Regions from separate parts of the Homo sapiens genome. Here all the other regions are linked to region 3. Evidence: fine-mapped expression QTL. A gene starts in region 3. Each other region holds a variant in brackets. All regions are shown on one strand. Distances are between the middles of the regions.

What was found. PIP is the estimated chance that this variant, and not a neighbour inherited with it, causes the effect.
Region 1: its variant is fine-mapped to the expression of CACNB2-AS1 in whole blood (TOPMed, PIP above 0.99).
Region 2: its variant is fine-mapped to the expression of CACNB2-AS1 in skeletal muscle (GTEx, PIP 0.98).

Annotation. Positions count from the first base shown.
Region 1 is chr10:18,663,724-18,672,046 of GRCh38, reverse strand. It overlaps ARL5B (ARF like GTPase 5B), which reads right to left. Exons shown (of 6, transcript NM_178815.5): 2 at 5,412-5,472; 3 at 3,370-3,517. Among named protein-coding and RNA genes, the nearest start is that of ARL5B, 8.5 kb to the right of the region's middle. The variant A/C (reference allele first, on the strand shown) is at 3,210.
Region 2 is chr10:18,510,000-18,518,322 of GRCh38, reverse strand. CACNB2 (calcium voltage-gated channel auxiliary subunit beta 2) reads right to left here. Exons shown (of 14, transcript NM_201596.3): 7 at 3,954-4,087. CACNB2-AS1 (CACNB2 antisense RNA 1) reads left to right here. Exons shown (of 3, transcript XR_007062076.1): 2 at 1-3,921; 3 at 4,663-5,707. Among named protein-coding and RNA genes, the nearest start is that of CACNB2-AS1, 25 kb to the left of the region's middle. The variant G/C (reference allele first, on the strand shown) is at 4,945.
Region 3 is chr10:18,534,642-18,542,964 of GRCh38, reverse strand. CACNB2-AS1 (CACNB2 antisense RNA 1) reads left to right here and starts at 3,689. Exons shown (of 3, transcript XR_007062076.1): 1 at 3,689-3,771. CACNB2 (calcium voltage-gated channel auxiliary subunit beta 2) reads right to left here. Exons shown (of 14, transcript NM_201596.3): 12 at 6,769-6,864; 13 at 4,600-4,785; 14 at 1-3,735. The coding sequence ends at 3,241. LOC124902387 (a long non-coding RNA gene) reads left to right here and starts at 8,169. Exons shown (of 2, transcript XR_007062077.1): 1 at 8,169-8,323.

The sequences.
Region 1 (8,323 bases), 130 kb before region 3:
ATAAAGGCAAGACACCAGAAAAAAGAGGAGAAATCTGTTGGTAAAGCTATACATGAAAAAAGGGAGTTTGCATATTAAAAAATAAGAAGATATAGGCCAGGCATTGTGGCTCACACACATATAATCCCAGCACTCTGGGAGGTGAGGTGGGATGACTGCTTGAGCCCAGGAGTTTGAGACTAGCTTGGGCAACATAGTGAGAACCTGTCTCTCTACAAAAAATAAAAATTAGCCATGCACATAGTCCCACCTACTTGGGAGGCTAAGGTGGGAGGACTGCTTTGAGCCTAGGAAGTTGAGGCTGTACTGAGAATCATGCAACTACACTCCAGCCTGGGTGAGAGAGAGGCCCTAACTCATTTTTTAAAAAATGTGGGGGGTGGGTGAGGGGGAGGAGGAGGAGGAGATGGAGGAGATGATACAGCGAAAAAGCACCCTTAAGCTGAACACTGTATACAGAATAAAAAGTTAAGAAATGAGATGAAATGATGTTATTACAGCAGGAGATAGATGCAAAATAAACTGAGACATGAAGGGTAGAATTAGATTACAGAGATGACTTTAAAATTAGGGAAACAGGCTAGGTGCAGTGGCTCACACCTGTAATCCCAGCACTTTGGTAGGCCGAGGTGGGCATATCACTTGAGGACAGTTCAAGACCAACCTGGCCAACATGGTGAAACCCTGTCTCTATTAAAAACACAAAAATCAGCCAGGTGTGGTGGTGTGTACTGTAGTCCCTGCTACTTCGGAGGCTGAGGGAGGAGAATCCTTTGAACCTGGGAGGCGGAGGCTGCACTGCTCTCCAGCCTGGGTGACAGACTGAGACTCCATCTCAAAAAAATAAATAAATAAAAAACAAAAATAAATAAAATTAGGGAAACAGACAACTAATCTGAATATAAACTGAGTTGGGCTTAGAAGGGAATAAACGGAAAGAATGTCGCGTGGCAAAGGAGGAATCAACAGAATATGGGAAACAACTGTGAGTTAATGAGAGGAAGGTGTCAATAATTACTTAATACCTGTAACTTCTTGTATTATAATGGACATACTACCGCTTTTGGGGGACTCTTCCACGTGAAGAATTTTCAAAATGCAAAGTGACAGGCGCCACTGTTCTTTGTAGTAATTTTGATATTCTTGTAGAGATCACTTATTAAAAGAACGTTTCATGCAAATGGCATCAGTAATGGATATCTCTTTCTGGACCCATGCTAAGTCCTCCAGAGTTTCAGTCACTTCAAGAACTACCCTTTCGACACACTTTAAGTACATATGGATTCACTAGAATCAACTTTGACCTATTCATCAATGATAACTGCCCTTTTCACAGCTGGAGTTAACTGTGAGCTTAAAACTACTAACAGCTCTGATGTTTAAATTAATCATATGCTACAATGTCATTTGTCCCTTACTTTCTTTTCTTTTTTTTTGAGAGAGAGCGAGACTCTGCCACCCAGGCTGGAGTGCAGTGGTGCTATCTCAGCTCACTGCCACCTCCGCCTCCCAGGTTCAAGCGATTCTCATGCCTCAGCCTCTGGAGTAGCTGGGACTACAGGCACATGCCACCATGCCTGGCTAATTTTTGTATTTTTAGTAGAGATGGGGTTTTGCCATGTTGGCCATGCTGGTCTTGAACTCCTGGCCTCAAGCAATCTGCCCACCTCGGCCTACCAAAGTGCTGGGATTACAGAAGTGAGCCACTGCGCCTGGCCCTTCCCTTACTTTCTAACTTATTCTAGTTTCAGAACATTATTTTACTGTATAAATGTATAAGCTACCCTTTAACTATATTATTTGCTTACAGCTTCTGCATACCCAATAAAATAATTCAGTGCTACCACAAGTTCTGATTATCTATGATACGCCATCTTTGTTTACTTACACGTTGCATTGGAATATATACACACATACACACATGCTATTATAATATAAATCTAGAACAATACATGTTTTTTAAAGAGGCAACTTTGTTCACCAAAAATTATTCATATTATATCCTTTTCTACCTCTTCCCTTCCAACTCCAATTTTTTTTTTTTTTTTTTTTGAGATAAGAGTCTCGTTTTGTCACCCAGGCTGGAGTGCAGTGGTGCCACCTCGGCTCACTGCAAACTCTGCCTCCTGGGTTCAAGCGATTCTCCTGCCTCAGCCTCCTGAGTAGCTGGGGACTACAAGTCTGCCCCACCACGCCCGGCTAGTTTTTTGTATTTTTAGTAGAGACGGGGTTTCACCTGTGTTAGCCAGGATGGCCTCAATCTCCTGACCTCATGATCCACCCGCCTCGGCCTCCCAAAGTGCTGGGATTACAGGCGTGAGCCACCGTGTCTGGCCCAACTCCAATTTTTAAAAGGTTTCATTTTAGAAAAAAATAATTGGTTAGGTGTACTTCTTTGCAAAGAACAATTAAATGGATGCAATTGTGAAATCATACTATCAAGGATAAATCTCTCTAAACTACATTGAATGGCTTTTAAAAAAATCTGCCTCTAATAAGAAATAAAAGCAGAAATAGAACATGAATATATCCAGGTTTGTTCCCCAAGTTAGCTCTGAACTCATAAGTGGCAGAGAACTTTGAGAGATGATTTGCAAATCTACTTTTTTCTAATTAAAAAAAAATCTACCAACATTTTGAATGTTCATGGTATAAAAAATTTTTAAATTAATAAAATATTTTATTCCTCCACCGGTCAGGGTCTCTTAGAAAGTTGTGAGATCTTGGGGAAACCTACATAATATCTCCACGTGTCAGATCTCTCCAACCCTGGAGACATGAAAATCTTGTGAAGATGAATGGAGAGAACCTGGCCAAACAGTAAGCACTCAAGTAATAATAGCTCCAAACAATCTTTCTATTTGCCTTTTCTTTTATTCGAAAACCCAAATTCTTAAGTCTCATTTATGAAATTTTTATTTATTTATTTTTTAAAAAAAGGAAACCCAAATTCCCTACAAAAAAGGATCTTATTAAAAGGCCGGCCACGGTGGCTCAAGCCTGTAATCCCAGCACTTTGGGAGGCCAAGGAGGGTGGATCACGAGGTCCCGAATTCAAGACCAACCTGATCAATATGGTGAAACCCCGGTCTCTACTAAACATACAAAAATTAGCCGGGTGTGGTGGCACTCGCCTGTAATTCCTGCTATTTGGGAGGCTGAGGCAGGAGAATGGCTTGAACTCAGCAGGCGGAGCTTGCAGCGAGCCA[A/C]GATCACTCCACTGCACTCTAGCCTGGCGACAGAGCAAGACTCCGTCTTAAAAAAAAAAAAAAAAAAGGCAACTGTCAATACGCCCAGGTGCAGCCTAATTACTTTCTATGTTTACTCTAGGGACCTTTGGATTAAAATTCAAAATTCATCTTAGCATACCTCTGTATTTGAGTAATATGTGTTCCAGGATGATCGCAGAGACTCCTGACCACCAATATCCCACATAAGAAAATGAGTGTTCTTCACAACTATTTCTTCAACATTGCTTCCTATGGTTGGAGAAGTATGAACCACTTCATTCATTAAGCTGTTGAAAAACAGACACCGTAAAAGCTCTTGTAAATCTTGAGAATCTGAAGCAACTTTTATCTCTGTATTTTTAAGATCAATCAACCTTCTGCACCAATGATGGTGATCATTAGCATGAAAATTATAAACCTGGAGAACACTTGCGCAAATCAATATCTAGATAACAACTCCAGAAGAAAGACTTGTTTCTTGTTTGTTTTTTTTTTTAACGGAAGGAATTGCAAGCTTGATGGAAAAGAAAGGAAACAGTGTGGTGTGAATTTGCATTTCTGTGGCCAAAAATTCCAATACCACCATGCCCTGTTATCAGTTAGATAAGACCCAATGTCCCATGCCATCCTGAAAAGCAAGTTTCTAGGTGATTGCAAAATAGCAAATATTGGATAGCAGGCTATCTATAATTTTGAAGACTGTCTAAATTGAGACTTAGTCACAAAAATTAATTCAGGCATATTAATCTAAAGTAGTCCTAAAAAGATGACCATGGGCAAGTAAAAATTTAAATTAACTATAGATATATTTAGAAGGCCAGGTGTGGTGGCTCACACCTATAATTCTAGCACTTTGGGTGGATCACCTGAGGTCAAGAACTTGAGACCATCCTGACCAACATGGTGAAGCCTCGTCTCTACTAAAAATACAAAAATTTGCAGGGCGTGGTGGTGGGCGCTTGTAATCCCAGCTACTCTGGAAGCTGAGGCAGGAGAACCGCCTGAACCTGGGAGGTGGAGATCACGCCATTGCACTCCACCCTTAGAAACAGAGCAAAACTCTGTCTCAAATATGTGTGTGTGTGTGTTTGTGTGTGTGTGTATATATATATATATATATTTAGAATACTGATGCTCATACCCCTCGTATTATCATAATCATTGGTAAAGCTACATTAATCAATTAATTCAACAAATATGCCCTTGCCAGTAACATGTCACTACTGTGTTGGAGGAGGCTTGCAATTCTCTTGGGTTTTATGTATATTTTTGAAGCCATGTGTAAAATTATTTCAACAAAGATGACAGGTTTCTGAAATGTTTATATGTGATGTTTAAAAGCTAATTCATATTTAAACACATAATCACCAATGAATGAAAATGTTTTCAAGAGAAACAAGTAGTTGTTCAACTCTGAAACAACAAACTTTAAGTCAGTAGCTTTTTAGCAAAGTAGCTGAAAAATGCGTTAATCACTGGCTAATGAAGTACTTCTGGTGAGCTGATGGCTGTCTTCTAATGCAACATGAGTGGGAAGAGGTAAGAGCCACACAATGGGGCAAAGAACTGTAGAACTATTTTGTTAAAGTGCCTGGTAGATCCACTTCTACTGCTTAATACTATCATTTCATTGGCATTGAAAGGATAATGGAAGGTACTCTGACAAGTGGAATGATGAGCTGTGAAAATTTCCTAAGGTATTAACAGATTTCTCTGAAAGTCTCAAGACTCTCCCTCTTGCAAGCTACTACAGCAATATTTTCAGGAGTGATCACATTTCTTTTGACAAGTCTGGCTATGTTAAAAAATTCCAAAGCTATTAGTCAGGAGGGTAGCAATGGCTTCCTAGAGCTATCAATTTATTTACATAAACCCAAGTGGGGTAAGAACTAAGTGAAATCCACTTTATCACCTCACCCCAGCACTTCTAATATGCGCTTTATTTATTTAATATTAATTTCTTTCTTTCGAGGGCAGAAAACAATAAGTGTTTGTGAAGGGTTTAGCAAATGTTTATTTCACTCACTTTTCTATAGATTGTGTTCGGTAAAATTAAAAAAACAAAAAACAAAAAACATATATTTAAGTTTTTCCGTCATTATTATAATGCATCTCTTATTAATTGTAAACACATTAGTTTCAATAACTAGTGAAAACTGTTTAATAAACACCCATACTTACAATTGGTAAAGAATGGTGGTTTTCCCTGCATTATCCAGTCCCACTATAATTACTTTGTGTTCTACAAAAAGAAAGCAAATCATAAACATTTAACACTACTGCATTACTGCAATTACATGCTTTCAACAATGATTATTAGTTAGCTCATTAATGAGAATCATTCACTGAATATCTATCACTAGACTTAAAATGCAGAAAGAAATGTTATGATGTTAAGGCTACCTAGGTTAAGTAACAAAATCAATTATCATTGATTCTCTGTCTAGTTCTCATGTAAAAGAATGTGGGAGATGGGTAGGCAGGAAACACCAGCAAAGTTGGTCACTTATATTGCATCTAGGGGAGAGGAGACCCAAATATTAATCTAGGCAAAAATTATAACCTAAATGTAAGTTTTTTAAAAAGCCTGTTTTACACACCTTTTTAGCTCTGTACCAATCAAGTTAGCTTTTTATCAAAATGTTTTCATATCTGTAAGTTTCCCCACCTATGTATACCAGGATCTGTTTCTTCCTCTCACTTAAAAATCCCATGTAAGCTTAAAATTGAAACGTTTCATGTGTCACAAAGACAAACATATACTCTCAAGTTTTTACACAATTACTCATTGTTTAACATTTTTTCAACCGGCTTCTACAGTTCTTTTGAGCAGATTCTGTTTCTGCTCTTTGTACAATGAAAATCTCTTCAGTTCTTTCCTCCTTTGGGTGCCATGCACTAAATATTCACCTCTTTTAATAAGTAGTTGCTAAAGCTCATCTAATTATTCCGTTAAGTGGTATATATTCTGCAATGTCCTTTGAATACAGAAAACAACCCAGATACCATCTTTCCTAGATTTTCACTTATGCCAAGTATACTAAAGATCCCCTTCTCCAAGGCAGAAGAATGCTTAAAAAGTTACAAGTTAACATCAACAGGGTAAGTAGGGAAGTTTCCACAGAATCACAACACAGTTGATTTGTAGGCAACGATTGGGCACATCTCATATCAGAATCCCGCTCTTCTTGATGACCTCTGGTGAATGTCAACATTCTGGTCATATAATCAACTATCAGCTCATATTCCTACTCTGAAGTTCTAAACTTCATCAGCCAAAAAAAGAGGGACCAAGAAAATTTAAGTTCTTGAGATGTGCAGGTCTTCCAATGACCTACACACTCTAGATACAGCCTATTACAGTGCAGGATAAACAGACACGGTCCTCTGGAAGGGCTATTTTCACTATGGTAGAAGCTGCTTTGTAAAACAAAACAAAACTTGCCTGCTTAGTATAACTCACTATAATTCTCCTTATTTATTTGAGACAGGGTCTTGCTTTGTTGCCCAGGCTGGAGTGCAGGGGCATGATCACTGCAGCCTCGACCTCCCAGGCTCAAGTGATCCTCCTACCTGAACCTCCTGAATAGCTGGGACCACAGGTGCACACCACCAAGCTTGGCTACATGTCCTCTAATGAAGCTAATCTTTAAGTATTACCCTGTTTGTTATCCCTTAAAGTACAAGAACCTTTATCAGTGAGGAACAAACAGACTGCCTGGCACTAAGCATTCTAAATTTTGGTGACAGCTAGAAGCTCCACCTACCAAGCATCTACAGAAAACAACATGCCTGCAGTGGTGAGAAGGAAGCCACTAGTTTAAAGATAAGCAAAACTTGAAGGCAGATAATCCTGTTGGGAGAAAGGAATGGAAGGACAGTACCAGATGGCTCCTTCTTGAAGCAACTCAAATGAAGACCCAGGTCATTTGCAAACAATCCTGCTCCTTGCTTCACTTTTGCACTATGATGCTTCACATAATACTGAAGGCCTGTGATGGTAAAACTCACCAATAATGCACCATTTTGAAAGGTAGGTCCCTAACATGAGGAAATGTTAGGTTAAGACACTACTGTTAGGCCAGGCGTGGTGCCTTACGCCTGTAATCTTAGCACTTTGGGAGGCCGAGGTGGGAGGATCACGAGGTCAGGAGATCAAGACCATCCTGGCTAACACGGTGAAACCCTGTCTCTACAAAAAATACAAAAAAATTAGCCGGGCATGGTGGCGGGTGCCTGTAGTCCCAGCTACTTGGGAGGTTGAAGCAGAAGAATGGCATGAACCCGGAAGACGGAGCTTGCGGTGAGCCGAGATCGGGTCACTGTGCTCCAGCCTGGGCAACAGAGCGAGACTCCATCTCAAAAAAAAAAAAAAAAAAAAAAAAAAGACACTACTGTTACTATCAGTTACAGTAAATCAGAATGTTTTAGGCCAGGTGCAATGACTCACACCTGTAATTCCAACACTTTGGGAGGCCAAGGAGAAGTGATCAGTTAAATCTAGGAGTTTGAGACCAAACTGGGCAATACAGTAATATCCCATCTCTTAAGAAAAAAGTTAGCCAGGTCAGGCATGGTGGCTCACACCTGTAATCCCAGCACTTCAGTAGGCTGAGGTGGGCAGACCACAAGGTCAGGAGTTCAAGACCAACCTGGCTAATTTGGTGAAACTCCGTCTCTACTAAAAATACAAAACTTAGCCGGGCATGGTGGCAGGTGCCTATAGTCCTAGTTACTTGGGAGGCTGAGGCAGGAGAATCACTTGAACCTGGGAGGCAGAGGTGGCAGTGAGCTGAGATTGCACCACTGCACTCCAGCCTGGTGACAGAGCAACACTCCGTCTCAAACAAAACAAAACAAAACAAAAACAAAGAATGGTCTGGAAGACAGGATGCAGATAGATGATAAGTTTAAGTTTAGTGTGTTTGAAACCTGCTTACAGTCCAGAGTTAAGAGCAGAATAAGCTGGGGCCGGGCGCAGTAGCTCACACCTGTAATCCCAGCACTTTGGGAGGCCGAGGTGGGAGGATCACAAGGTCAGGAGATCGAGACCATCCTAGCTAACATGGTGAAACCCCGTCTCTACTAAAAAT
Region 2 (8,323 bases), 25 kb after region 3:
AGAGGCTTTTAGACGTTTCACAGGCAGGTAGAACATAAATATTTTGTGTATAAGGTACTCTTTCTGAACTCCATAATATGAGGCACTGGCTTTCCAGACATTTTATTTTCCCCACTTGCCTCTTTTCTACATAAACCCAGTCAAAGATTGGTGGGTTCATTTTCCTGAAGTTTCAAGTTACTGTTGTCTACAGTCTTCTTGCTCATCTCAAGAAATGCTACAGACCTATTCGTTCCTAAAGCAAGAGATGCTGCTTTTGAACAAAAACTAGTTGACAGAACAAAGAGAAACATGCCTCATGCAAGATAGGTGCTTTAGGCTTGACTAGAAGTTAATATTGCTTTTCGGCTGCATTTGAATTTTCTAAAGAGTTGTAGTGATTAGACCTAACATGGTTAATTACAGAGGAAAGAAAGATTGCATTACCTTTGCATCTTAGGTTTTTGTCTTACCTGTGTAAAACCTCATTTCAAAATATTATAACTCTCACTACCAATACTTTTTACCTAATCTCAAAATATTGTAACTCTCACTACTGTCAAAATTCTATATTATTGTGAGAGTTTAAATGAACATGCATGCTTATTTTAGTAAACAGTAATCATGATCCCTGCTCACAGCTTAGTGATTAATGCTATTGAATTTTTTGGTTTCTATACCTTGGTACTTCAAAGGTAAGGTTTATGTGTCTTCGAGGGAAGGTGATTAATGTATAATAATATATTCAACCATGCTATTGTGGTCTCAAAAGGTTCATTATCAATGTGCATATCTAATATGATTCTCAAAAGTAGTTTTCTGTCAGATAACTAATGACATCTTTCTGCAGTAAATTATTTCTTTTTAATAAGAGGGGAGGAGCTAAATTTTGTAGCAATTTCTAAAACTGTCAACACTTTTCAGGTTAATTGCTTCAAATAAAATGGTAAAATAACATCTTTCCAAAAATTAGGTAACAGCAAATTGGTTTATATTAAAATTGGCTCTTTTGATAGCATAAAATGCTAAATTGACCCAAAAATGACTTTTTAAAAAAATGCATAAGAGTGATATGGCCTTAGACACTGCGATAAGCAAATCATTGCTATATGAATCTTTCTGGCTAAGGAGTGTCAAAAAATATAACTTGAGAATCACACACACCAACAGAAAAATGTTCTGTAAATGATTTTAAGAATTCAGTACACTGATGTGCAGATATGAATGTCATTTTTGCATCTGCCCGTCACTCAAGAACATTTTATTGTTGCTTAAAATTGCCCATTACAAACTTTTCTGGCTTCATTTGAATTCACATTGCCTCAGGGGAGAATTAAAAAGCATTTCAAATTCAAAAGCTTCCATCTGAGATTTTACCCGTAGTCACAGACGATATAATCAGAGGGAAGAAAAATATTACCATGACTGTGCTGTCAAATTTCACTGCCTAAAATTTCACCTAGCATTCAGAATTAATTTTAATTGACACAATCAAGGTAGAATACAGTTTTGAACAGAAAAAAAAAAAACAAGACAAACATAATACAGTGACAGCACACGTACCACACAAGCACCACTCTAAAAGCAACCTAAAACATAGAAAACGATCTTCTCATTGAATCTCAGGCTGTTGTTTTGTTTTTGAATTCTACATTGATGTTAACCACATTATCAATAACATAAGAAGAATGAATACCAGTGCCGAAGGCATCATAAGCATATTTCTTAAACTATTTCATTTATACCACCTGGGATCATACTGAAAACGTTTAGAAGCCAAGTCCTGATAACTATGCGGTGTAAGAACACCTTTTCCACCGTTGAAATTATGAATGTAAATTTCCTGCATTTTAGTAACAGCTACCAAGAAATTTTATCTCAAGACTTTAATTCTGAAGTGGCCCAGTGTTTGATAGGTCTTTGGTTCCTTCGATCTGTAACTGCCAACTAGCAAAGGGTCACCCGTTGCTGGTAATCAATCAGCTTCTTAATCAATAGGGTAGCTACAGAAATTACCTTATTTGATGGAATATTGGTGCTTTGTGCCCTATGAAGAATGACGCCATCATTTTTATCTACTCTTCCCTGTTAACCCCATTTAGCTTGATTTTTTTTTTCTTTTTTTTGAGACAGAGTTATCTAGCTCTGTTGCCCAGGCCGGAGTGCAGTGGCATGGTCTCGGCTCACTGCAATCTCCGCCTTCCGGGTTTAAGCAATTCTTCTGCCACAGCCTCCCAAGTAGCTGGGATTACAGGTGCCTGCCACCATGCCAGGCTAATTTTTTGTATTTTTAGCAGAGATGAGGTTTCACCATGTTGGCCAGGCTGGTCTCAAAACTCCTGACCACAGGTGATGCACCTGCCTCAGCCTCCTAAAGGGCTGGGATTACAGGTGTGAGCCATTGCGCCCTGCCTGCTCAAATTATTTAGTGAAAAAATTGTGATAAAAGTTTTTAAAGTTTTAGAATTTAAAGGTAAGCAAACTTCACAAACCTATCTTGACAAACAGGGTTTTAGCTCACATTCCTGCTCCGTCAAGGCCCAAATGTCTTAGCGATGCCGATTTTCTAAGCTTCTGAATGATAGACACTGTTAGTCACTTGGCTGCAAGCTTTAGCTGTAACAAGAAGATCGGACCCCAGAAATGGGCCCACTGTTGTGGGTGAACATCAAGCTGAGGCTATGTTAACACAAAAATCCAAGTGTTGCAATTTTTGCCCAGAGTGCTGAAGTTTTCCCTTATTAAAATAATCATAATTGATTCAAAAAAAGCCAACTTTACAGTTCTGTATCTGACACCTCATTAATGACTTGAGTTCCTCCACAAACCAAAATACATGTTTGCAGAGGAAAAGTGTTCATTATGTGGAGAGTTTGGGGGCAGAGGATAGACAGATTTGACATCACATCTGCGTGTGAGAATATATCCATGGTTTTGCCAGACTTGGCGACATTAGTATGATTCTAAAAGACAGCATGGTAGCTGTGGAAACTGATGGGTAAAAGAGGGGAAAAAAAGGGAAATTTGGGGGGAGGTTAGTGGTCCTTAAAAAATAATGCTTTAAAGCTACAAAATGGGTGAGGAAAAGGCTTTGTCTGAAGTAAGGAGAGCTCAGGAATACCCTATAGTTTCCATTTAGGGGACAAGGAGCCTCGCTGTGTAGCATCTTGGATGGCCAATGGCAAAGGCTCTACGCATGACCACTGGCTGCACTGTCCAAAGGGTGAGATGGTAAAATCTGACTGATGGAGAAGGCAAGAACATCGGGAGAATATTTATATATGACAATAGGAAAAACTCACAGTAAACCGCCAAAACAAGCCTGCAGTTTTCCACTGGTCTTGTTCATCTGCAGATTTTGCACCTAGTGGATTAGAAGTTTAAATACTGACTAAATTAAAACTTGAATACTTTTTTTTTTAGTACAAGCTATGTATCTGGATATCATAAGTCAGAATTTAATAACTGCTTTAATATGTTTGATCATAAGTTAAATTTCTGGATAAAAGAAAGAGATAGAATAAGCATGCACAATTTAGGTGCATTATGTGGAGCTGTCAGTGTTTGACATCCCTGAATGTTGAAACAAATTCCCTTGGTGGTAGATATTATTCCATCAAAAAGGATAAGTACTGTAATGGTGTTTTAACAGGTCACTCCCTGAATTTAGTTGGTTTGAAATGCATGAACTCAATTAGCTGTTGATAGGTTCTTTGCTTGGGACAGAAATGATTGTATTTAATACAACTGTGGGAATTAATGCTAATGATGCCAGTGGCAGGATAAACACAGCTTATGTCAATGTAAACTTACCGATTTCTGCTTCTGCTTAGCTACAGCAGCATGGAAAAGAAACAAATAACAGAGCATGCACGTTATTGGCTTATCAAAGGACGCAGACAGTCAACAGGACTAGAAATGTGACGCAGTGCAGTTGAGCAGGTGGACAATGGGAGCTTGGAAGTTAATGTTACCTTCTTAAAGAAGGGCATTCTTTTCTCTTTGGAGTGGGGTGACGTTACACTGTTTGCACTGGGTTTAGGGGAGCGGTGGTTTGCTGGAATATCATTTTCTTCTGCATCTAAGCCAGTAGCATCTATGTCTATAGCTATATACAGACAATTCAAAAATCAGGTGGACAGGAGAGGAAAAATAGGTTATAAAGAAAATAAAATGAAAGCAAATAAAACTAACCATAGTAAAAAAAACTATCATGAGTGCTCAACACAGTACGCAAGAAAATTAAATTTAAAGGTAAGGCACATTAAGAATGCAAGGTAATCAAATCTAATGAAACTGAAAGATACACTTATAATCTGTTTGCTTGAATGAATCAGTTTCATGCTAGACGTCTTGAATATTTTCAGAGAAACATTTTAAATCTGTAGTTTCAAATATAATGTTGATTTTCTCTGTATCAACTGTATAAAAGTGCAGTACAGAACATTTGACTTCATTACAATATCTTAAACCAGCTTTGAGATAACAAACAACTACTTTGAAAACCTTTATTATAGGTGAATGCAAAAGTAATTGCGGTTTTTGCACTGTTGGAATTTGCCATTTGATATTGGAATACATTCTTAAATAAATGTGGTTATGTTATATATCATTTTAATGCGCATTTCTCGCTTTATGCGTTTTTGCTAATGACTTATTACTTGCTGTTTATGTTTATTTTAGACTATGGAAATGATGTCAGACAAAAAGCGAATTTGAGTGACTTTCTTATTCGAGTTCAAAATGGGTCGTAAAGCAGTGGAGACAACTTGCAATATCAACAATGCATTTGGCCCAGGAACTGCTAATGAACGTACAGTGCGGTGGTGGTTCACGAAGCTTTGCAAAGGAGACGAGGGACTTGAAGATGAGGAGCATAGTGGCTGACCATTGGAAGTTGACAGCGACTACTCAAGAACAATAATCAAAGCTGATTCTCTTACAACTACACGAGAAGTTGCTGAA[G/C]AATTCAACATTGACCATTCTATGGTCTTTCTACATTTGAAGCAAATCGGAAAGGTGAAAAAACTCAATAAGTAGGTGCCTCATGAGCCAAGCAAAAATAAATTGTTGTTTGGAAGCATCTTCTCTTATTCTGTGCAACAACAATGAACCATTTCTCAGTCGGATTGTGACGTGGGACGAAAATTGGATTTTATATGACAACCACTGACAACCAGCTCAGCTGTTGGACTGAGAAGCTCCAAAGCCAAACTTGCACCAAAAAAAAAAAAAAAAAAAAGGTTATGGTCACTGTTTGGTGGGCTGCTGCCGGTGTGATCCACTATAGCTTTCTGAATCCCAGCGAAAACATCACATCTGAGAAGTATGCTCAGCAGATCGATGAGATGCAGCGAAAACTGCAACACCTGCAGCCGGCGTCGGTCAACAAAAAGGGCCCAGTTCTTCTCCGTGACAACGCCTGGCTGCACATCACACAACCGGCGCTTCAAAAGTTGAATGAATTGGGCTACGAAGTTTTGCCTCATCCATCATATTCACATGACCTCTTGCCAACCAACTACCATTTCTTCAAGCATCTTGACAACTTTTTGCAGAGAAAATTCTTCCACAACCAGCAGGATGCAGAAAGTGCTTTTCAAGAGTTTGCCGAATCCCAAAGCATGGAGTTTTATGCTACAGGAATAAACACACTTATTTCTCCTTGGCAAAAATGTGTTGATTGTAGTGTTTCCTATTTTGATTAATAAAGATGTATTTAGGCCTAGTTATCATTTAAAATCCATGGTCCGAAACCGCAATTACATTTGCACCAACAATACAATGTGCAAAAAAAGATTTTTCTTTTTGCAGATTTTGTGTAAAAATAAGGACAGTGTGAAAAGTTTCCCTAAAATTGCAACAGACATTTGAGAAAAAGAGAGAATGGAAAATTCTCAATCCAGTCAATGCAAAGGAGTCATACACAAGGCCAATGATTCAGGGAGGGCTCCAGGAAGGACAGGATTAAGATGATTTTAGGCTGATGAAGACTAATGGGAAAACACTGGGTCCCAAGATATCCGAGTGAAATCTGTCTAATAAAATGACATTGGAAGACTTCTGGTGACTTATGCAAAGCCACTGGGTTTAACAAAAGAGGCAGAGTGGAAGGGCACGAGGACCCAAGAGGATATGCCACTGGTTTCCTCATCTGTAAAATGAAAGGTTTAGCTTTGTTGCTTGACATGATTTACTTTTCCCATTGTTCCACCTGAAAATATAGTACTTAAAAAGTGTTACAAGAAAAAAAGATGCATAATCTCACTTCAAATTTTACAAAATCCTTCCACATGCAATTGAAATAGCTACAGAATTTTATCAACTGCAGAGTCAGAGATGGAAATAAAGATCAACTTCAAGGCTCTTATTTTTAAGATTAAAAAACTCAAAATTTAAGGGACTTGTTCTTGGCAAAAACTTGGCAGTCAGGATTCAGACCTACTCCTCCTGCGTAAGTGAGTCTATAACCCTCCGTATACCACAGTGCCCACCTAAATGAGTCTGTAACCGTCCCTATACCACACTGCCCATCCAGGCGAAGTCCCTTCTCAATCTGGGTGCCCTCTTTCAGTTCCCTTCACATCCTCAATGGGGTCATGTCCTTGATGTCAGGAGTCAGGATGACATCATAGAGCTGGACTAGCTAGAAAATTATTCTACGGTTAAGAATCAGTCAAGGAGAAGAAAAAAAATTTACTCACTGCAGGAAAGCATCATATTATACATGTTAGCTCTCTAACAAAAACCACAGTACATTTAGATTGAAGGAAGGAACAAATTACCAGTTTGAAATAACAGACAACTTGGTGTTACAATACAGCTACCATTCCCTGGGATACACAAGCTGAACTGCTCACAGCAGCTTCTTCTAACCTTTTCAAAGGATGGAAGATCATCTGACAGGCATTACATTATTTTTCAGTTTTGAAGTTGTTATGAATATTAAATGAAGCAGCCTTTTGAAAACTAGGCTCTCTTATTTAATTATTCCTTTTCATTTGGTGAGGTAGGAAACCTGTGATGGAGTGAATACCTGCCATTGTTTGTACACTATTACAAATAATCAGCTATTGCTTGCATAATGCAGGAGGTATGATTTTCTATCAAAAAAAAGGTAATAATGGAATTAATTCAGTCCTAATTACGTAGACCTAATATAGTAAGTATGTCTTCCTCTTTGCCCCATCTATGCATACTGATGTGCTAAAAGGTTTAACATGTGGTATGTAGAGAAAACATAAAATGTGCCTAGGGCTTTATCCAGTGCTGACTTTTATACCATCCTATAGCTAATCCTTTGCTCATATAGGAAAGTTTCCTTATGGGGCTTATTGAATGGCATAAGCCAGGCAAGAGTCTCAGAAAACTCTTCAGAAATGTTTTTCCTTGAATCTCAACTCAAGCAGCATGTTGTCAGCGCTTTCCTGGATATGAAGGACAAAATCTGCGTCAGGAATTCATTATTCCTACAATACATGTTAACCAAAATCAAGAGTTTCCTTGCTGGTGGTAAATTCCCACAGGTTTTATCTTTCTCATCTTTTATTGGGCTCATAAAGACCACATTCAAGGGATAGTACCCTTTGAGGGCTCTCCTAAAATGAAGATAACCAGTTGGATGTCAGAATTTACAGGACCCTTGGACAGTCAAGTTCATGAGTTGAATTTTGTGATTTGCCCATTGAATCTAGCCTGCTGTGATCATCAGTTGTATTTTTGTTTTTTAAAATAAGAGTGAGGCTGGGCATGGTGGCTCATGCCTGTAATCCCAGCAGTTTGGGAAGCCATGGTGGGTGGATCACTTGAGGTCAGGAATTCGAGGCCAACCTGGCCAACATGGTAAAATCCTGTCTCTACTAACAATACAAAGATTAGCCAGGTGTGGTGGCCGGTGCCTGTAATCCCAGCTACTTGGGACGCTGAGGTGGGAGAATCACTTGAACCTGGGAGATGGAGGCTTCAGTGAGCTGAGATTGTGCCACTGCACTCCAGCCTGGGTGACAGTGAGACTCCATCTCAAAAAAAAACAAAGAAAGAGTGGAAACGTATACATCTTTGGCTGCAACGTTGCCCAGGTGTTTGGCTTTCCACACACATAGCCTGAGTCAGGTTTGAAATTTACCTGTATCTGGACATGAGGGCTGGATATCCCAAATTGAGAACTTTCTATAATGTACTAGTTCTGACATTTGGTTAACTCAGGTCTAAAAACATCTGAGTTCATTTTGAAATACGTAGAATTCTGAAACATGTGGTCACTTTCAAAACATATTAAAGAAACTTACCAAGGCAGTTAAGAAGCATTTTCAAATCTGTTCAGCTACATGTATTTTATTAGACT
Region 3 (8,323 bases):
TTGTAACAGTAACTTAAATGAGCAGTAGAGAAAGAGCATAGGAAAGACTGAAATGGATATGACCAAAAAAAAAAAAAAAAAAAACTATTAAATACATTTCCAGCATTTTCTAGGTTGACTACAAAAATGGCTCTACAACTGAGTAGGTTAAGGTTAAGCCTTTGTTGTGTGAAAAGACTGTAACTTTACATTCCGCAGGTCAGTAAATATCCCATTGCCCTTGAGATTATTTCCTCATTTACAGATTTACTACACAGTTTACACATATGTCCACTATACAGTTTTTCACATATAGCGGCTCTTATGTCAAATCCTTCAAGCTAGTTCTTTGAGGAATATTCTGATTTGCACTAATATGTTCTACAGTAAAGTGCAAGCTAAGAATCTAGATACAAAATAAAAAAGATGGAAACTCTCACCACTACTTTTTGAAAGGGATTAATGATAGCAGCAAGTAAGATAAATACTAGCTATGTTTCAAGAATTTAAATATTCTAAAATCATTAATTGGGATGAAATAATAAAGGATTGAACTAATAATTGTGAATCTCTTACCATGACAAAAGTTTTATCAGAAATATTTTATAAATTCAATTTTAATTAGAATATGGTTTCCTACCAATGTAAGAATTGTCAAGTTTATTATGACTACTGATTTTATACTCAGTAAATAAATTTATGTAAACAGTGTAGGGCTAATTAACGAACTGAGGGAAATTTTTTCATATATAAGCTGATAAAACATTATATATGTAACTAATTTTTATTTTCTTTTTTTAAACACCAGGTTGTCACCAGGCTGGAGTGCATTGGTACAGTCACGGTTCACTGCAGCCTCCACCTCCTGGGCTCAAGGGATCCTCCTATCTCAGCCTCCCAAGTAGCTGGGTCTACAGGTATACTCTACCACCCCAGCTTAATCATTTTTAATATTGCGTTTTCTTGGGGGTAAGGGAAATAAGGAGTTAAATGTAAAACAGTTTTACTTATAAAAGGCTAAGAATATTTGGTAAGAACTTGGAATAATCAAGGAAGCAAAACAAAGTAGATTTTATAATTTTGCTGGATAGTTTTTTTTGTTTTTTGTTTTTTTTTCTTTTTTGGAGATGGAGTCTCACTCTGTCACCCAGGCTGGAGTACAGTGGTGTGATCTTGGCTTACTGCAGGCTCCACCTCCTGGGTTCAAGCAATTCTCCTGCCTCAGCCTCCCAAGTAGCTGGGATTACAGGTGTGCACCACCACACCTGGCTAATTTTTTATCTTTTTAGTAGAGACGGGGTTTCGCCACGTTGGCCAGGCTGGTCTTGAACTCCTGACCTCAGGTGATCCACCCTCCTCAGCCTCCCAAATTGCTGGGATTACAGGCATGAGCCACTGCGCCCGGCTGATTTATTTTGTTAAATAAGTTAATGTGCAGATCTGAAGTTAGGTAATTATACACAGGCATTTTCCTGGGACAAACTTCAAGTGCCAGGTACTTGCACTCTTAATACTGTCTTACCATCCAGTTATAACTGGACAAAATATACACTTGAGACACGGAAAAGGTCTTAGCCTTAAACATGATGACATTGTAAGCTTCTTACAGCAGTGTAATTGAGGCATGGAGATAATGTCTTCAAGGTTCCCCTTCTGTGTACATGTCTTATGTAGGATAATATTCTTAACATTTTATTCACTTCAAGTCACCCCATTTTGCCCTGATTTCTTCTGAAGAACAGAAACTTTGGTTATAAGAAGCACTTCTGGGTTCTGACAGACAGTGAACCTGCTGGAGTCGGTGGTGGGGAGGAATGGTAGGTAACTGGGAGGTAAACAAACAACAGGAACAATAGGCAAGGTTAGAAATTGAAGTGGGAGAAGTTATAAAAATTTATTTTCCCACGAAATAATTCCACAAGCTGTGTAAACATTTCTTACTAAAACAAATACTCTAACACACAAAGATTGTACATTTCCAGTGAAACACTCACAGTAAAATTGCCTGTATTTTCACTCTCTAGGAGCAAAAACAAGGAGGCAGCAGATGAATGCTTTCCTAGTTACCTTTGGCAGCAAGCTTACTCACATTCCCTGACTGCTCAATGGGTTGTTAAAGCAACATATAGCACAATTAATTAAATACAGAGCGAGGTGGGCAGAATGCTCGATATCAGTCTCTAGTTTCTTCGTTAGTCTTCAGCATTCCAATTCATCTCAACCATTCAGTCACTCGGTGCACACTTTCTTACATACGGACACACACACGTGCATATAGCGAGTTCCGGCTCGTAGACTCCAGTGCAGTGACTAGAACAGACACTAGCTACTAAGAATGTGTCACAATCAGTGTGAACTGTATGGAGTAGAACAACCTCTGGAGTTTTATATTTACCATAATTTATGGTGGAAATTACAAACTTACTTACAAGGATGGTATAACATTCAGAATTCAAACCTTTTCAAGTCAAGCAATCACACATATTTACAGTATGTACACACTTTCTACTAGAATGAGGATAGGTGTCTAGACAATGTTATTACAAATTTCCTGAATGTGGGCATTTCTAGTCCCTGTAATTCATAAAGCAAATCTGCTGACTTGGCATTAAGACTCTAAAATAGTGTGATCAAACTGATATATATATATATTATATATATAATAAGAAGGTGTTTGTTTGCAGAAATAACATTTACAAACTGTCTATACAGTACACAGTACTAGTACATAGAAAATAGATTCTAACTTTATGATCCCCTTTGTGTAAGGCAAGACTGAATCTGTCCCCAAATTTAGTCAGCCAGAGGTACAAGCAAGAAACAGTGGTCCATGAATGAATATGCAAATCAGATGCCTGCGTATTAACGTATTAAAAATCTGGAGAAACAAGAAATTCCACTTTTTATCTGTGCTGATTCTGGCTTGTTGGATACATCAACTACATTTCTTAAAACACTAACATCACCTGGGTGGCAACAGATTTTGTTCAAGTGGCAGCTACCCAAAACAGTTTTTGAAGAGTCCAGTATGCAACCGGAGGACTGCAGCCATACCAGGCCAATTTATGTAGCACTTACAAAAGAAAAAGTATCTCAATACTCTATCCATGCTATTGCTATTCAAGCAACAGCAATAATACAAAATATTACAAGACAGATCACATATGATTGCAGTGTAGACCCCAAAGACTTTGTTTTGGGGATGCTGTTAGTTATACAAGACTTCAAAAAAAAAAAAAAAAAAACACAAACGGGCAAAACTCATTGGCGGATGTAAACATCCCTGTTCCACTCCCCAGCCTCATTCCGTTTTTTTGATATCACTTCTCCATCCTTTTCACAGTAGCGATCCTTGGATTTATGACGGCTGCGCTGCTTGTTGCACTCGTTGTGGTCCTGCTCTCGATCCACGTCCCGGGAACGGTGCCGGGACTCCCTGTGTCTGTGGTCACTGCTCCCGTGGGTCTCGTCTCTGTGGTTGTGGTCACGGTGTGAGGCATAGTGGTCCACGTGGTCATGGGAATAATCTTCCTTTGGCTCTACGTAGGCAGAGTCTCGACTCTCCTGGGTTTCCGAGTCAAATGTCTCTTGCCTGGAGAGGCCGCGACTTGTCCCACTGCGATGGTTGTGGTGTGGGGCTGAGGAGGAAGAGCGGTGCTGGGATTTCTTGACTGGTTCCACACTAGGTTCTTCTTCAGCTTGGGAAGCAGAACGGATAGGAGCGGAGCGATCAGTCCTCTGATCACCTTGAGAACCCTGGCAGCGAAAGGAGCACACCAGGCGTTAACCAAGGTCAGTGTGTAAAGAACATGTCCCAGAGCAAGTGCATTCAAGCAGAGTCCTTTTTAAGCATCCGAAAAGCTGAAATGAAGTCTAACCTAGCTTCATCCCTTTGGTAACATCCAGTGGCATTTATAAGGCTTTATACTATACTATATTAAATTGGACTTTTGTAAGTGCCTAGAACAGTGCCCATGGTAACTTTTTCCTTTAAAAAAAAAAAAGCAGCAGCAGGGAAAATGTTCTTTTATTTATTCTCCTGTGGCTCAAATACAGATGCAGGTCCCTGAGATTTTTCTATACAGCGGTGTAAACTTAACTACCTCTGCTTGACTGTATGTGAGAATATTAAAAATAGCAAATGCTTACCTGATACAGTGATACAGTATGGGACAGGCACTGTTCTGTAGACCCTTTGTATATAATAACTCATTAATACAACAGCCCTATAAGATCATCTCTTGAGATTATTAATTCCAGCAGCCTCTTGGACAGGTTGCCATTATTATTCCTGAGGTAAGAACAGTTAAGAAATTTGCCCCAGGTTATCCACCCCACAAGTGGTAAGAGGTGCAGCCAGGATTTGAATCTAGGTGATCCACTTCCACAGTCTATGCTACTGTTTAGAAAGTTTCGGTAGTCTGTGTATGTTCCCAATATATTCTGTTGATGGTGCTTTTCTTACAGGTACATACACAGCTCATGCTGGACTTGCTTTGAGTTAATATACTAGAACAAGCCCCAAGCAGGCTACTGGGCTTGGATCCTAGAGGTGTCACCATAGGCAACCTTTTTTCTATGAAGATTGTATATATAGATATATATAAAAACTCCCCTTACCTGTGAATTAGAGGCTAGGGTGGGGCTAAGAGGCAGACTTGAAGTGGCTAATGTACGGCTAAGGAGAGGGTTGGGGAGGCTACTGCTGGGAGGATGGGTGGCCTTCCAGTAGGCCTCCAGATAGTCGGCAAGGTGCTCACAGGCATCCTCAAGCTGGTTCTCATCCAAGATCACATCGAACAGCTCCTGCAGAGGCAGACATTCCAGACCACATTGATGCCAGCCCAGTTTTCACCCCCTTCCCACCTCCATAAGAGGAGGAAGGGGCTCATGAGCTGCACCCCTTTGTACTTGCTCCTGCTTCTATAAGTGCTGCTACTATCTCCCTTTTTATTTAGTTAGGAAGTGTCTGACTACCTCAAATCATTGTTGAGGGCACTGAATGCTTAACTAATAAATAATGGCCAGAAAGGTAACAGTTGTTAAGGACATGGCAACCCAGAAAAGTTGTCTATCAATCAGCAATGAAAAAGGCATAGATACTATGGTAGAAAAGAGATGTATATATATTTGAACAGAATAGAATAGAATAGGAAGAAGCCTGTTCTTGACATAAAGATTGTGATATCTTTTTTCTTTTTCTTTTTTTGAGACAGAGTCTTACTCTGTTACCCAGGCTGGAGTGCAGTGGCCTGATCTTGGTTCAGTGCAACCTTGGCCTCCCAGGTTCAAGTGATTTTCCTGCCTCAGCTTCTCAAGTAGCTGGGGTTACAGGTGCCTACCACCAAGCCCTGCTAATTTTTGTATTTTTAGTAGAGATGGGGTTTTGCCATGTTGGCCAGGCTGGTGTTGAACTCCTGGCCTCAAGTGATTCACCCGCCTCGGCCTCCCAAAGTGCTGGGATTACAGGTATGAGCCACCATGCCCGGCCCAAGATTATGAAATCTGAATTTAGAAATTAATAAGGTAAGATTAGGATGTGAAATTTTGACATTGTCCAAACTTCACAGTAGTTCAGTAGAGAAGAAAATAATGCCACTTTTCAAAAGATTTTTTAGTGTTTATTATAAATTTTAACATATATTAAGCAATCAAATATTTATAGACCCTGAAATGGCTATGCTTAAAAAGAAAAAAAAGCCTGGTGCAGTGGCTCATGCCTGTAATCCCAGCACTTTGGGAGGCCAAGGTGGATGGATCACTTGAGGTCGGGAGTTTGAGACCAGCCTGGGCAACATGGCAAAGCCCCGTCTCTACTAAGAATACAAAAATTAGCAGGGCATGGTGGCGTTTGCCTGTAGTCCTAGCTACTTGGAGGGCCGAGGTGGGAGGATTACTTGAGCCCGGGAGGCAGAGGTTGCAATAGTGAGCTGAGACACCACCACTGCACTCCTGCCTGGGCAACAAAGCAAGACCCTGCCTCCAAAACTAAACCTAGGAAAGCTCTAATACCTCAAGGCATTGCATGTAAAGCATAGACGACAAGTGAGAATCTAGGTAACTTATTACTTAGAAATTGATTTGAGACCATGTGAAAATAAATGTCTCAGACAGTTATTAAGAGCAGACAACTTGATCCCTATGATCAGAAATGAATAATATACCAACTCCAAATAGACTCATCATACAAGCCAAATTTTCGGAACCAGGATCTTGTGTTGGATATTAACAAAGTGAAGTTACTGCAGGATGTACGGAAGCTTTTGGTAAGCTATGATCATCGTTTGGATTACTTGTGCTCAAAACACATGATCATGGAAGGAGGGAGGACAGTTTACTTTGGAATGAATACCACTGTAAGTGATGAGGATTCTCTTCCCTGACAGGTGTTTGACTGTTTTTTTCAAAATATAATGCCAGTTCTGGCCAGGCATGGCAGCTCATGCTTGTAATCCTAGCACTTTGGAAGACCAAGGCAGGAGGATCACTTCAGGCCAGGAGTTCTAGACCAGCCTGGGCAACATAGCAAGACCCCGTCTCTACAGGGGGAAAAAAAAAAGTTAGCCGATCATGGTGGCATGCACCTATAGTCTCAGCTGCTTGGAAGGCTGAAGCAATAGGATCACTTGAGCCCGGGAGTTCAGGGCTGCAGTGAGCTAAGACCATACCACTGCACTCCCAACATGGGCAACAGAGCAAGACCTTGTCCCCCAAAAAAAAAAAAAAAAAAAAAAAAAAAAAAGGTCTGATCTCTGTAACTGGATTATGCTGTATATAGAGATAACTTACTGGAGGACACTGAGCCAGTTTATCAGCTGCTACCATCTGGACGTTGAGGTGTTTAGCTTGAGATTTCCCTCGAGATTTTATTAACCTTTGTAAAACCTGTAAAAGATAATGAGTTTTTAACAGAGTAATAACTACATCCAGGTAAAGTACAAGGTACATTATTGACTCCTTTCTCTGGGGCCTTTTTATATACAGCACAAGGGGCTTATAATAGATGGAGCTATAAGATTATCTGCAAAATTAACATGTTAACATAAATCACAGTTGCAAGCTTTAAGCACTCACATTTTTTCTATGCTAGCAGCTCTCAAACATTTTATCTCACAACCTCTTTAAAGAAGCTAAAATGGAAAACTATTAAAACATTTATTTAAAAATTCACAATAAATCTGATACATGTTAAAATATATATATATATATTTTTGAGATGTAGTCTCGCTCTGTTGCCCAGGCTGGAGTGCAGTGGTGCGATCTCGGCTCACTGCAAGCTCCACCTCCCAGGTTCACACCATTCTCCTGCCTCAGCCTCCCAAGTAGCTAGGACTACAGGCACCCGCCACCACGCCCGGCTAATTTTTTTGTATTTTTAGTAGAGACGGGGTTTCACTGTGTTAGCCAGGATGGTCTCGATCTCCTGACCTCATGATCCTCCCACCTCAGCCTAGTAGAGTGCTGGGATTACAGGTATGAGCCACTGCGCCCGGCCGAATTTTTTTTAATAAAAATAGCTACATTTTTACACATCTCTCTAATGGCTGGCTGGCTGGCTTCATAGAAGACAATTGCAGTCTCCTGTTTGCTTCTACAGTCAACCTGCTGCAATGTCATGTTTTGGTTGAAATACGTGAAGAAAATCCAACCTCCTACAGATTTGTAATTGAGAAAAGGAGAAACAATTTAGTATAGTCTTCTTTGATACTACACTAAAACTCAACAAATGGTGGTTCCTTAAAGACTATTTGTTATGTGGAATCTGAACCTGCAGTGCAATTTTCTTACTCCATGACATTCCATTGGTCTGTCTTGAAAATTAATGTTATTCATTGATCATACAAACAATAATGGTTCACTGACTTCAGATCTTCCAAATGTTGACATATTTCATTATACATTATTAAAACATCATATTCATTAATATTACCATTGATCTCAGAGAAAACTTTATTGGGAAGCTTGCAAGTTCTCAGAGATGCATACAAGTTTTCTAAAATTCTGATTGTTGTCTGAAAGCTTGAGTTTTATCATTGGCAACACATGCTGTTCTCCTTTAAGTGACAGGCTTATTTTGTCCAAGAAAATATCTGCTACACCAAGTCGGAATAAGCATAGCCTGTCAGTTGTTGTTTGAGATAAAAATGGTATTCTATGAAAAACATGGCTAGTTTAGTTCACAACTCAATCAAACCAGTGCTTGTCCTTACTTTTTGGTATACAGCAGGAGCTTTGTGTGTACTTTGTTTTAGTACACTGAATATTAAAAGTCAAGATTTAATAAAAGTAATAAACTTTACTACTTTATAAGGACATTAAGTGAAATTGGCTTTTTTTCCCCTCA